Linked DNA regions of Homo sapiens. The protein of the gene in region 1 purifies or fractionates together with the protein of each later gene. This does not show direct contact. Each region holds a gene or a part of one and is shown in the gene's direction. Other genes may lie near its edges.

Evidence for each region.
Region 2: the proteins of PHYHIP (region 1) and PRKD2 purify together in Homo sapiens (affinity purification with mass spectrometry; 3 studies listed by BioGRID and IntAct, with this or other methods). This does not show direct contact.

What each region holds. Positions count from the first base shown.
Region 1 is NC_000008.11:22,217,972-22,223,974, reverse strand, and holds the end of PHYHIP (phytanoyl-CoA hydroxylase-interacting protein), read left to right. Parts: intron 1-2,087; coding exon 2,088-2,622; 3' UTR 2,623-4,272; downstream 4,273-6,003. UniProt on the Homo sapiens protein: Its interaction with PHYH suggests a role in the development of the central system.
Region 2 is NC_000019.10:46,707,115-46,714,114, reverse strand, and holds part of PRKD2 (serine/threonine-protein kinase D2), read left to right. Parts: exon of another isoform or gene 1-113; coding exon 114-252; intron 253-3,076; coding exon 3,077-3,208; intron 3,209-4,760; exon of another isoform or gene 4,761-4,833; intron 4,834-7,000.

The sequences.
Region 1 (6,003 bases):
GAGGTCTGGGTTTGCTCCCACTCTGGGACAGTTCCTTTCACAGGGGTCTACCACCACAGGTCTCTCCGATTCAGGCCCTGGGGCCAAAGGGAAGGTGGCAGGGAGTGCACAAAATGAGTGTTCTGATCACAAAGGGTTCGAGGAAGCACCCAGCTCGTCGGTTTTCAAACTGGGTGCTCCCTCCAGGGAGACATGTCAGTGAACCCCTTAGAATGCTGCCATGGGGTTGGGGGGACCAGAGGTTGAGGCTTGGTGGGCCCCACACCTGACCTCCAGTCAGAGTAGCCTCAATTTTATTTGCCTGTGACCCTTCCACGTATAATTTCTTTTGGGGATAAAAAGAGAGTTGCTGCAGTCCAAAAGTGTTTGAAAATTGGTGATCTGATCCAACACCCTCAGCCTACAGAAGAGGAGCCTGAGGCCCAGAGGGAAGCACTTGTTCATTCGAGCCAGGGAGTCACTTGTTACTGAGGACAGCCAGGACCAGGCAATGTGAGGCAGGACCAGGAGTACCCACCATCCCCGGGCCTGCTGGCAAGTGCTCCAAGGCCGCATCCTTCTGAGGCTCAGCCAGGGCAAGCAGCTGCTCTGCCTTTTTTTTTTTTTTTTTTTTTGAGATGGCGTCTTCTCTGTCACCCAGGCTGGAGTGCAGGGGCGCGATCTCTGCTCACTACAACCTCTGCCTTCTGGGTTAAAATGATTCTCCTGCCTCAGCCTCTTGAGTAGCTGGGACCACAGGTATGCGCCACCATGCCCGGCTAATTTTTGTATTTTTAATGAAGTGGGGTTTCACCATGTTGGCCAGGCTGGTCTCAAACTCCTGACCTCAGGTGATCCGCCCACCTCGGCCTCCCAAGGTCCTGGGATTACAGGCATGAGCCACCACGCCCGGCCTCTGTCTGTCTTTATCCTTACAGTCAGGGCAGTTTTAACCTCAGGGCAGTGAGGACCTTGGGAGTCTTTGGGGTTTGTATTAAAGAAGCAAGGCCTGCTTGGTGGCTCAAGCCTGTAATCCTACCACGTTGGGAGGCCGAGATGGGATCTCTTGACCCCAAGAGTTCAAGACTAGCCTGAGCAACATAGTGAGACCCCAGCCTCTGCAAAAAATTTAAAGAATTAGCCGGGTGTGGATTGCTTGAGCCCAGGAGTTCGAGCTTGCAGTGAGCTGTGATTGCACCACTGCACTCCAGCCTGGAAAGCAAGTCAGTGGCCCAGTTTGGGCTCCTTTATCAGCGAGAGTGGGAGAGATAGAGAGCACTCATGGGTGCCAGGCACCTTACTTGGTGCCAGGATGTAAAGATAAAGGCACAGTTCACTCTTTTGAGAACCTCAGAATCCAGTCAGAGAGACAGTATGGAAAGATTTCATGTAAAAAGTACGTGTAATTGTTGAGCACAGTTCAGTGTCCTGGCCAGGTGAAGTGGCTCACACCTGCAATCCTAGCACTTTGGGAGGCTGAAGCAGGAGGATCACTTGAGGCCAGGAGTTCAAGTCCAGCCTGGGCAACATAGTGAGAAGATTGGGTGTCCTGCACATAGTAGGAAGCCAAAAATTTGTCAAGTGCAGGTGTCTGCTGTTCCTGGGAGGTTTTAGAGGGGAGCAGACGCTTGACTGAAGCTTGAAGGCTAATTAGAAGTTTGCCAAGCCAGACGGAGGAAGGTGGAGAGGGCAGTCAGTGCAGCAGAGGGAAGAGTCCTGCATAGGGGTCACGGAGGCAGGAGACTGTGTGTGCAGGGGGTGGGTAAGTGGATGGGGTGGCAGGAGGTGGGGAGTGGCAAGGAGACCACAGAGATCAGATCATGAGCCGCCGTGTTTTTCACACACACCCCATCAAAGGGTTTCAAGCTGGGGAGTGACAGCTTCATATCTCTTCTCTGAGAAGGAGTGGGCTGGTTGAATCCCTCTCCAGGGCCCTCCCTGCTCTTGCATTCTGGAATGTTCTATTTGCGACTAGTGGAGGCGGCTGGGGGAGGGCTGGGAGCTGGGCTGGCTTCCTCCCTCCTCGACCACACGCAGCAGCCAAGCCTCAGCCCGGCTCACCAGCCACATCTTCTCTTCCCTTTGGTGTGTCTCCCTGGGGTGGGCAGGACCCACTGCGGGAACATGCTGCAGCCTTACCTGAAGGACAACAGTGGCAGCCACGGCTCCCCCACCAGCGGTATGCTCCACGGGGTCTTCTTCAGCTGCAACACGGAGTTCAACACGGGCCAGCCCCCGCAGGACTCCCCCTACGGCCGCTGGCGCTTCCAGATCCCAGCTCAGCGCCTCTTCAATCCCAGCACCAACCTCTACTTTGCGGACTTCTACTGCATGTACACGGCCTACCACTACGCCATCCTGGTGCTGGCGCCCAAAGGCTCCCTGGGGGACCGCTTCTGCCGCGACCGCCTGCCCCTCCTGGACATTGCTTGCAACAAGTTCCTGACCTGCAGCGTGGAGGATGGGGAGCTGGTCTTCCGCCACGCCCAGGACCTCATCCTGGAGATCATCTACACTGAGCCCGTCGACCTGTCCCTGGGCACCCTGGGGGAGATCAGTGGGCACCAGCTCATGAGTCTGTCTACTGCCGATGCCAAGAAGGACCCCAGCTGCAAGACCTGCAACATCAGCGTGGGCCGCTAGGGACTCCTGGGGAGCTGGGGGGCGAGGGAGAGATGAGCGGAAGGTGGAGGTGGGTAGCCCAGGTTCAGGGAGCTGGCTTTCTCTCTCCTGCCCCCCTGCTCCCTCCACTCTGCCCAGCTGCCCTCCCCTCGCCCCTTGGCATTGGAGGCAACAGACGGTGGTCCTCTTGGTAAGTGTGGCCCACACCCAGCCTGGTGGACATGGAAAGGCTTCTCAGCCTCTGTAGTTGGCAGCTGGGCTGGACTTCTGGAGAACTTCCCCTTTCCTCTGGTTTCCTTGTCCTACTGTTCTTTGCCTCGTCCAGGTCTCTATCTCCCAAAGACCTGCCCACCTCCTGGGCTCTCCCAGGGAAGCCCCTCTGGGCCAAAGCCCATGGGTAGCTTGGCTGCCTCCAGAAGAGATGCAGAGAGCTGTGGGGCGATCTTTCTTAGTCCCACTCACCCCACTCAGGGCCAACCACAGAATGCCCCCTCCCTGCTGAGCTGGGTCTCTGGGGCTTCCCACTCCAGGCCTGGATCCCTTCCTTCTATAAATAGTCTCCTGCACCACCGTGACTCCCTGGCTGCTCCTTGCCCCAAAGAACCCTCTTCCTGCATGGGAGAGCTGTCCCTCCTTCTCCACCTGCCCACCGGGACACTCCCCCTGCTCTCTAGAAAGGAACTCTCTTTCTTCTCTTGGCACTGGGGGCGTCAGGCTGTCGGATGTTCCTTCCTTCCATACCCCAGCATACCTTCTCCTTGCTTAGAGTGCAGGGGTCTGAGACAGCAGCCACTGGGGTTGAGGAGGGGGAGGAGACCCCTGAGACCCAGAGGTGCCCCTTCCTCAGCTGGGAGTGGGCCGCCTCATGCTCTGCTGGGGCCTGGCATGGAACGTGAGACCTGTAAGCTGTCCCGCGGGCCCCGGCACCCCGCCCAGCTGTGCACTTTGCTCACTCGCTCTGCCATGGTGCCATGACTGTACTGTGCCCATGCGTGACCTGGACTGTGGACCCTCTGCTGCTCCGCCTCTCCCCTCCCCACTGGCTCTGTCTGCTCTCCTGCCACCCTGCTGGCCGGGAGCCCCTCCCCGGGGAGTTCTTGGTGAAGTCCTTCCCGGGCCTCCTTGTGTTTTTGCCTCATTCCTACTGTCACACAGGTCACGAGGGTGGACTCCCTACAATCAACAAAGCAAACAGAGAGCCTGTGGGAGGGGCTGACAGCAGCAGCCGGCTGTTTGGGGGATGATGGAGGTGACATCAGGCAGAGGAGAGTGCAGCCTCACAGTGACTTTCTCAGAGGTGACAGAGATGATGGATGAGCAGCTGGATTTTCGTGATGAAGGACGGAAGCAGCAGCGGGCCGGCAAGGCCATACCTCGGTGAGGGACAGGTGGACAACGGTCACCTATCTGTAGCCAGGGGCAGTTGTGTGGCCAGCTGTCTCTCTGGGATGAGTCAGGAGGCCTGGAGGCTTGGGGAGAGGTGTGGAGAAGGAGAGAACATGGCCCAGGCCCTTTCCTTCCCCCTGTGCTGACAGCATTGCTGTGGGGGTGGCCCACTGCCCTCCCCTGGCCCTCATGTCCCCCCGGGGCTGGGGTCCGCCTGCCTGTGCTGTGCTTGCGACGTGCATCAATAAACCACCATGGCCTGAGGGCCCTGCTCGTCTCAGTCCATTTGAGCTGCTGTAACAAAATACCACACATTGGGTGGCTCAGAAACCGCAGATTCATTTCTCATAGATCAAGGTGCTGGCAGAAGCGGTGTCTGGTGAGGGCCTGCTTCACAGATGGCTCTTTTCACTGTGTCCTCACAGGGTGAAAGGGACTAGCAAGCTCTCTTGCCCCTCCTTTTTTTTTTTTGTAGACATGGGGAATTTCACCTTGTTGCCCAGGCTGGCCTCAAACTCCTGGCCTCAAGTGATCCTCCCACCTGCTTGGCCTCCCAAGGTGCTTGGGATTACAGGCATGAGCCACTGCTCTGGGCCATCTTGGGCCCCTTTCATAAAGGCACTAATCCCATTCATGTGGCCCCACCCTCATGACCTCATCGCCTTCCAAGGCCCTGCTTCCTAAAACTATCACCTTGGGGTTAGAATTTCCACCTAGAGCTGGGTGAGGTGGCTCACGCCTGTAATCCCAGCATTTTGGGAGGCTGAGGCAGGTGGATCAGTGGAGGTCAGGGGTTCAAGACCAGCCTGGCCAATATGGTGAAACCCTGTCTCTACTAAAAATACAAAATTAGCTGGGCGTGGTGGTGCATGCCTGTAATCCTAGCTACTGAGGAGCCTGAGGCAGGAGAATTGCTTGAACCTAGGAGGCGGAGGTTGCAGCAAGCCGAGATTGCGCCATTGCACTCCAGCCTGGGTTACAGAGTGAGACTCCATCTCAAAAAAAAAAAAAAAAAAAAAAAAAAAAAGTCAACCTAGGATTTAGGGGGGACACAAACATTCAGACCATAGCACCCCATCCCTTTGGGCCAGTGATGGTATGGGTGAGTTCTGCAAACCACAGAGGAGCTCAGGTGGGAATGCCCCCAGGACAGGCGACCTGAAATCAGCTCCAAGGGAGCACCTCGTCCATTGTGGGAGGCGGGGCTCAGGATGTAGAGCTGAGTCTCCAGCTTGGAAGGGACTTTGGAGTCTTTTGGTCCCACCCAGTGTTTCCCATATGGGGCCTCCCACATGGGGCGTCCTAGGAGAGGACTCACAGCATCTGGAGGCCCCGTTTGGAGCTTTTGAAGCCTTCCTACTACAGCAGCTTGCCATTGCTCCAGACCCAGATGCCACCAAATGTCCCTGTCCCAAGTGCCTGAGTGTCCCCGCTCCCCAACACAGCTCCCGTTTATAGATCCCAGTCACCTCTGCATCTATCATTTTATTATTATCATTATCATTATTATTTTTGAGATGGAGCCTCGCTCTGTCACCCAGGCTGGAGTGCAGTGGCACGATCTTGGCTCAGTGTAACTTCCACCTCCCAGGTTCAAGCAATTCTCCAGCCTCAGCCTCCCACGTAGCTGGGACTACAGGTACATGCCACCATGCCTGGATAATTTTTGTATTTTTAATAGAGATGAGCTTTCACCATGTTGGCCAGGCTGGTCTCGAACCCCTGACCTCAAGTGATCCACCCACCTCAGCCTCCCAAAGTGCTGGGATTACAGGCATGAGCGAGCCACTGTGCCTGGCCATTATTTTTATTTCTTGAGACAGGGTCTTCCTCTGTTGTCCAGACTGGAGTGCAGTGGCACGATCATGGTTCACTGCAGCCTCAACCTCTGGGGCCCAAGTGATCCTCCCACCTCAGCCTCCAGAGTAGTTGGGACCACAGGCGTACACCACCATGCCCAGCTAGGTTTTTTAACATTTTTTATTTTGTAGAGATGGAGTTTCCCTGTGTTGCCCA
Region 2 (7,000 bases), on another chromosome or scaffold:
TCTCTGCGTTTCCGGGGGAAACAGCCGGCCCTGCCCTGGGAGGGTCACAGTCCGCCCGCTGCTGAAGGCGGCTCTGAGCTTTTCCGTCGCCACATCCCTCTCCCGCCCCTCAGTTCCCTGAGTGTGGCTTCTACGGCCTTTACGACAAGATCCTGCTTTTCAAACATGACCCCACGTCGGCCAACCTCCTGCAGCTGGTGCGCTCGTCCGGAGACATCCAGGAGGGCGACCTGGTGGAGGTGGTGCTGTCGGGTGAGAGGTGGTGGCCGGCCTGGGGGCGGGGCCTCGGGTGGGGGCGGGGCATCTGGGGGAGGAGAGGGTAGGGGGAGTTAGAAGTCAGGAGAGGCCGGGTGTAGTGGCTCACGCCTGTGATCCCAGCACTTTGGGAGGCTGAGCTGGAGCTGGGGGGATCGCTTGAGCCCAGGAGTTCGAGATCAGCCTGGGCAACATAGTGAGATTCCATCTCTACCCCTTTCTCTCCCTCTGAAAAAAAAAAATAAGGAGAGTTGGGGGCTTCTGGAAGATGGTTACAGAGTGGGGTCATGAAGGCGCTCTTTAGGGACTGGTCTAAACTTTCATTTATGGATTAGGATGCTAGTGACACGCTTTGTACAGTTTGAAAATTCATTGAGCTGTGCACTTGTGATGTGCGGCCTTTCCTGAACATATGTTATACTTATTTATTTATAAAACTAGTCAAGTGCAGTAGTTAGAAGGGGGAAAAGAGGAGAAGAAGGAGTTGGATCTGTAACTGACTGTGTTATGCTTAAATATAAAGGTAAAAAATGGGCCAGCTGCAGTGGCTCACACCTGTAATCCCAGCAGTTTGGGAGGCTGAGGTGGGAGGATCGCTGGAGCCCAGGAGTTTGAGACCAGCCTGGGCAACATAAGGAGACCCCATCTCTTAAAAAAAAAAAAAAAAAAAAAAGTTAACCGGGCGAGGTGGCACACGTCTGTAGTCTCAGCTACTTGGGAGGCTGAGGTGGGAGGATTTCTTGAGCTTAGGAGTTTGAGGCTGCAGTGAGCCACGATCATGTCACTGCACTCCAGCCTGGGCAACAGAGAGAGACCCTATCTCTAAAAAAGAAAAAAAGTAGAAAAAGAAAAAAAAAAGTTATGATGTCCATGGCTCCTGCCACGAAAATGCTAAATTAAATCAGAATCTCTGCAAAGTGAGATGGAATCTGCACATCAGTATTTTTAAAAGCCCCCAGGTGATTTTCTAAGACACAGCCAGAAGCCAGTTCATCCACTCACTATTCCAGTAGTATAGATGGGCATGCTCTCAGCACCTTAGAGCAGTCTATGGCCCTTGGTCCCTCTTGAGGGTGGGGGCAGCTGCCTTTTTCATGGCTGCCTTCCCTGCTGCTCCGGCATACTGCAGTGCCCAGTGAAACCGGCTCAATGAATGAATGACAGAAGTCTGGATTTACACCTTTAGTGACCTTGTTCAGGCTTTAAGTACTCTTTCATATCATAAGCTGGCCTCACTTGAATTTTTATCTTCATTGTTGTCTCTCCCCTAAACCTGAGTTTTGTTTTGTTTTTGTCATTTTTATTATTTTTTGTTTTTTTAGACGGAGTCTCGCTCTGTCACCCAGGCTGGAGTGCAGTGGCGCAAACTCAGCTTGCTGCAACCTCTGCCTCCTGGGTTCAAGCGATTCTCCTGCCTCAGCCTCCCGAGTAGCTGGGATTACAGGCGCCTGCTACCACACGTGGCTAATTTTTGTATTTTTAGTAGAGACGGGATTTCACCTTGTTGGCCAGGCTGGTCTCGAACTGCTGATCTTAAGTGATCTGCCCACCTCAGCCTCCCAAAGTGCTGCGATTACAGGTGTGAGCCACCGCTCCCGGCCCTGTTATTTTGTTTTGAGGCAGGGTCTTGTTCTGTCACCCAGGCTGGAATGCAGTGGCATGACCACCACTCACTGCAGCCTCTACCTCCCAGACTGAAGCAATCATCCCGCCTCAGCCTCCTGAGGTGGCTGGACTATAGGCATTACAGGCATGCACCACCACACTGGGCTTTTTTTTTTTTTCTTTTTTTTAGACAGAATCTTACTCTGTCACCCAGGCTGGAGTGCCGTGGCATGATCTTGGCTCACGGCAACCTCTGCCTCCCGGGTTCAAGCAATTCTCCTGCCTCAGCCTCCTGAGTAGCTGGGATTACAGGCACGCGGCACCAGGCCTGGCTAATTTTTGTATTTTTAGTAGAGACGGGGTTTCATCATGTTGGCCAGGCTGGTTTCGAACTTCTGACCTCAAGTGATCCGCCCACCTGGGCCTCCCAAAGTGCTGGGATTACAGATGTGAGCCACCGGGCACCGCCTATCCATGTTCTTTTTTGTTGTTGGTGGTGGTATTTTTAATTAAAAATTTTTTAATTTGGTAAAATATACATAACATAAAAATTACTATTTTAGGCCGGGTGCAGTGGCTCACGCCTGTAATCCCAACACTTTGAGAGACCGAGGCGGGCAGATCACCTGAGGTCGGGAGTTTGAGACCATCCTGGCCAACATGGTGAAACTCCGTCTCTACTAAAAATACAAAAATTAGTCGGGTGTGGTGGCGCATGCCTGTAATCCCAGCTACTCTGGAGGCTGAGGCAGGAGAACTGCTTGAACCCGGGAGGCGGACTTGTGGTGAGCCGAGATCTCACTACTGTACTCCAGCCTGGGTGACAGAGTGAAACTCTCTAACAAACACAAACAAAAAAGCCCACAACATTTTAAGCACTTTTAAGCGTACAGTTCAGTAATTTAAAGTTCACGCACACTGTTGTGCAGCCGGTCTCCAGAACTGTTGTCATCTTGCGAAACTGAAGCTCCTTGCCCGTTAAACAACTCCCCAATTCCCGCTCTGTCCCTGCCCAGGGCGTAGGGATATATGTGTTTTGTTCAGGGGTGGAGCTGGGATTTGAACCCAGGCAGAATGTAGTATGAGAGCAAATGAAGGAAGGAAGGAAAGATCACACCTTGCGGCTGGGAGCACTGTGAGAAATCAGGGAACGTGGGGTCTGGAAAAGCTTTGGCCTACCCCGCCTCAAGCATCCACCCCTATTTTCCGCCTACAGCCTCGGCCACCTTCGAGGACTTCCAGATCCGCCCGCACGCCCTCACGGTGCACTCCTATCGGGCGCCTGCCTTCTGTGATCACTGCGGGGAGATGCTCTTCGGCCTAGTGCGCCAGGGCCTCAAGTGCGATGGTGAGAGCTAAAGGGTTGGGGGCGGGGCCTGGGGCGGGGCTCTGCACCGGGGGCGGAGCGTAATGGTCCTGGCACGGGGACAGCGTGGGGAGGAGGAGCGGGTCTCAGAGCTGGGGGCGCAGCCTAGGAAGTAATAATGGGAAGAAGGATGGGCCCAGAAGCAGAGCTTGGGGAAGGAGTGGTGGGGCTGGGCCGGGGCTCAGGTCTAGGGGCGGAGCCTAGGAGGTGGAGCTGGGAGGGACAAGTAGGGGCTTAAGAACAGAGCCTAGGGGAGCAGAAGGGTGGCGGGGGAAGAGGGTGGGGCCTCTATCAGTTAGGGATCAAGCAGAGAAACATCCAGGAGGAGATATATATTGAGATATTTATATGCAAGGAATCAGCTTACAGAATTGTGTGGGCTGGCTAGGCAACTCAAATCTGGCTGGGCACAGTGGGGGAGGCCAGTAATCCCAGCACTTTGGGAGGCAAAGGTAGGTGGATCACTTGAGGCCAGGAGTTCAAGACCAGCCTGGGCAACATAGCAAGACTCTGCCTGTACAAAAAATAATTAGCCAAGCATGGTGACAGACACTTGTGGTCCCAGCCACTTGGGAGGCTGAGGCGGGAGGATCACTTGAGCCTGGGAGCTCGACACTGTAGTGAGCCCTGATTGCACCACTGCACACCAGCCTGGGTGACAGAGCGAGACCCTGGCTCAAAAACAGGAAAAAGGCCGGACACGGTGGCTCATGCCTGTAATCCCAGCACTTTGGGAGGCCGAGGCGGGTGGATCACGAGGTCAGGAGATTGAGACCCTCCTGGCTAACATGGTGAAACCCCGTCTCTACTAAAAATACAAAAAATTAGCCGGACGTGGTGGCACACGCCTGTAGTCCCAGCTACTTGGGAGGCTGAGGCAGGAGAATTGCTTGGACCTGAGAGGAGGAGGTTGCAGTGAGCCGAGATTGTGCCACTGCACTCCAGCCTGGTGATAGAGTGAGACTCCTTCTGAAAACAGAAACAAAAACAAAACAATAAAAAGAAAAAGAAAAAAAAATCCATCCTATCAGGAAGGGCAAGTGGGAACTCAGGCACAAGCTGAAGCTGATGTCCACAGGTGGAATTTCTTCATCCGAAAAGTCTCTGATCTGCTTTTTAAAACATTCAGCTGATTGAATGAGACCCACCTAGAACAAGCAGGATCACCTCTCCCACTTACAGTCAGCTGATTATGGATTTTCATCACATCCAGAAAATACCTCCACTGGGCCGGGTGCGGTGGCTCACGCCTGTAATCCCAGCACTCTGGGAGGCCGAGGCAGGTGAATCACCTGAGGTCAGGAGTTCGAGACCAGCCTGTCCAACATGGTGAAACCCCGTCTCTACTAAAAATACAAAAAAGCCGGCGTGTTGGTGGACGCCTGTAATTCCAGCTACTCGGGAGGCTCAGTCAGGAGAATCTCTTGAACCCGGGAGGCAGAGCTTGCAGTGAGCTGAGATTGCACCATTACACTCCAGCCTGGGCAACAAGAGCAAAACTCTGTCTCAAAAAAATGAAAAGAAAAGAAAATACCTCCATGGGGCCTTCTCTTCCCAGTTCTTCCTGGAGTCGGGGAAAAGCTGGGTTGAGAAGGTGAAAAGAAAAAACAAACCTTGACTGGGCACAGTGGTTCACACCTGTAACCCCAGCACTTTGGAGGCTGAGGCAGGCGGATCATGAGGTCAAGAGATTGAGACCACCCTGGCCAACATGGTGAAACCCCATCTCTCCTAAAAATACAAAAATTAGCGGGCGTGGTGGCATGTGCCTATAGTCCCAGCTACTTGGGAGGCTGAGGTAGGAGAATCACTTGAACCCAGGAGACAGAGGTTGCAGTGAGCCGAGATCGTGCCACTGCACTCCAGCCTGGCAACAGAGCGAGACTCCGTCTCAAAAAAAAAAAAAAAAAAAAAAACCACAAACAAACCAACCTTCATGGCAACATCTAGATTAGTGTCTGAATAACTGTGGATCTCGCCTAGCCAAGCTGACACATTAACATGACTATCAGGGTCCATCTCTTGTCAACCTGGCACCTGTCTTAGTTTGTCAGGGCTGCCTTAACAAAATACCACCCTGCGTGGCTTAAATGACAGACATTTACTTCTCAAAATCCCTGGAATTGTGAGAGGCTGGAAAGACAAAGATCCAGATTCTGGCAGGGTTCTGTTTCTGGTGTAGCCTGCTTTCCTGCCTTGCAGAGGGCCATCATTTCACTGTGCGCTCACATGGGACACGGAGAGAGAGATCCCTGGTATCTCTTCCCTTTATAAGGAAGGCCAGGCATGGTGGCTCATGCCTATAATCCCAGCACTTTGGGAGGATGGTGGATCGCTTGAGTCCAGGAGTTCGAGACCAGCATGGGCAACATGGTGAAACCCCGTCTCTAAAAAATACAACAAATTGGCCAGGCATGGTGGTGCATACCTCTAGTCCTAGCTACTCAAGAGGCTGAGGTGGGAGGATCACCTGGGCCTGGGAGGTTGAGGCTGCGGTGAGCCGTGATCATGCCACTGCACTCCAGCCTAGGTGACAGAACACGATTGTCTCAGAAAAAAAAAAAAAAAAAAAAAAAAAAAGGTCACCAGTCCCATTGGATTACAGCCACACTCTTTCGGCCTCAATTAACCTTAATTACCTCCATAAAGGCACCGTCTCCAGATATAGTTGCATTGGAGGTTAGGGTTTCAACATAAGAATTTTGGGGGAGACACAGACATTTAGTCCATAACAGCACCCATACATATCTCCTTAAATCATAGTTTAAAAATATACAGGTTTTCTTTTTTGGAGACAGCGTCTCAGTCTGTCACCCAGGCTGGAGTGCAGTGGCGCGATCTCAGCTCACCACAACCTCCACTTCCCAGGCTCAAGCGATTCTCCTGCCTCAGCCTACCGAGTAGCTGGGATTACAGGCACACACCATTACTGCCCGGCTAATTTTTGTATTTCTAGTAGAGACGGGGTTTCACCACGTTGGCCAGGCTGGTCTTGAACTCCTGACCTCAAATGATCCACCCGCCTTGCCCTCCCACAGTGCTGGGATTACAGGCATGAGCCACCGCGCCTGTCCAAAACATACAGTTCTTTAAGCCAAGATGTCTCAAGGTTCAGCCCAAGTGTCAAGATCTATATAGGTCCTCTGTCCCTGTTATTCATGCTTCTGAGTGAGAATGTTGAAATCGGGGCTCTGCCTACAGATGAAGGCCATGTACCTGCATTGGCTATGAGGACAGATGACAGGTGAGGACCATCCATTCTGTGATGAGACCCTGTGGCTCCATTGTTTTGTGTGTGTGAGACAGAGTCTTGCTCCGTCACCCAGGATGGAGTGCAGTGGCGTGGTCTTGGCTCACTGCAACCTCTACCTCCTGGGTTCAAGCAATTCTCCTGCTTCAGCCTCCCAAATAGCTGGGATTACAGGTGCGCACCACCACTCCTGGCTAATTTTTGTATTTTTAGTAGACGGGGTTTCACCATGTTGGCCAGGCTGGTTTCAAGTAATCCACCCTCCTCAGCCTCCCCAAGTGCTGGGATTACAGACATGAGCCACTGCGCTGGGCCCCATGCGCCTCCATTTTTGTATGGTGTGCCCTGCAATTAGAGCCATATTCTTGGATGTTCCATTGGGTATTAGGTCTGAGACAGCATCTCTAGCTCCGTGGGTGCCACGCTTGTACAGAAATCCTGATTCTGGGCCAGGCACGGTGGCTCACACCTGTAATCCCAGCACTTTGGGAGGCCAAGGCGGGCGGATCATGAGGTCAGGAGTT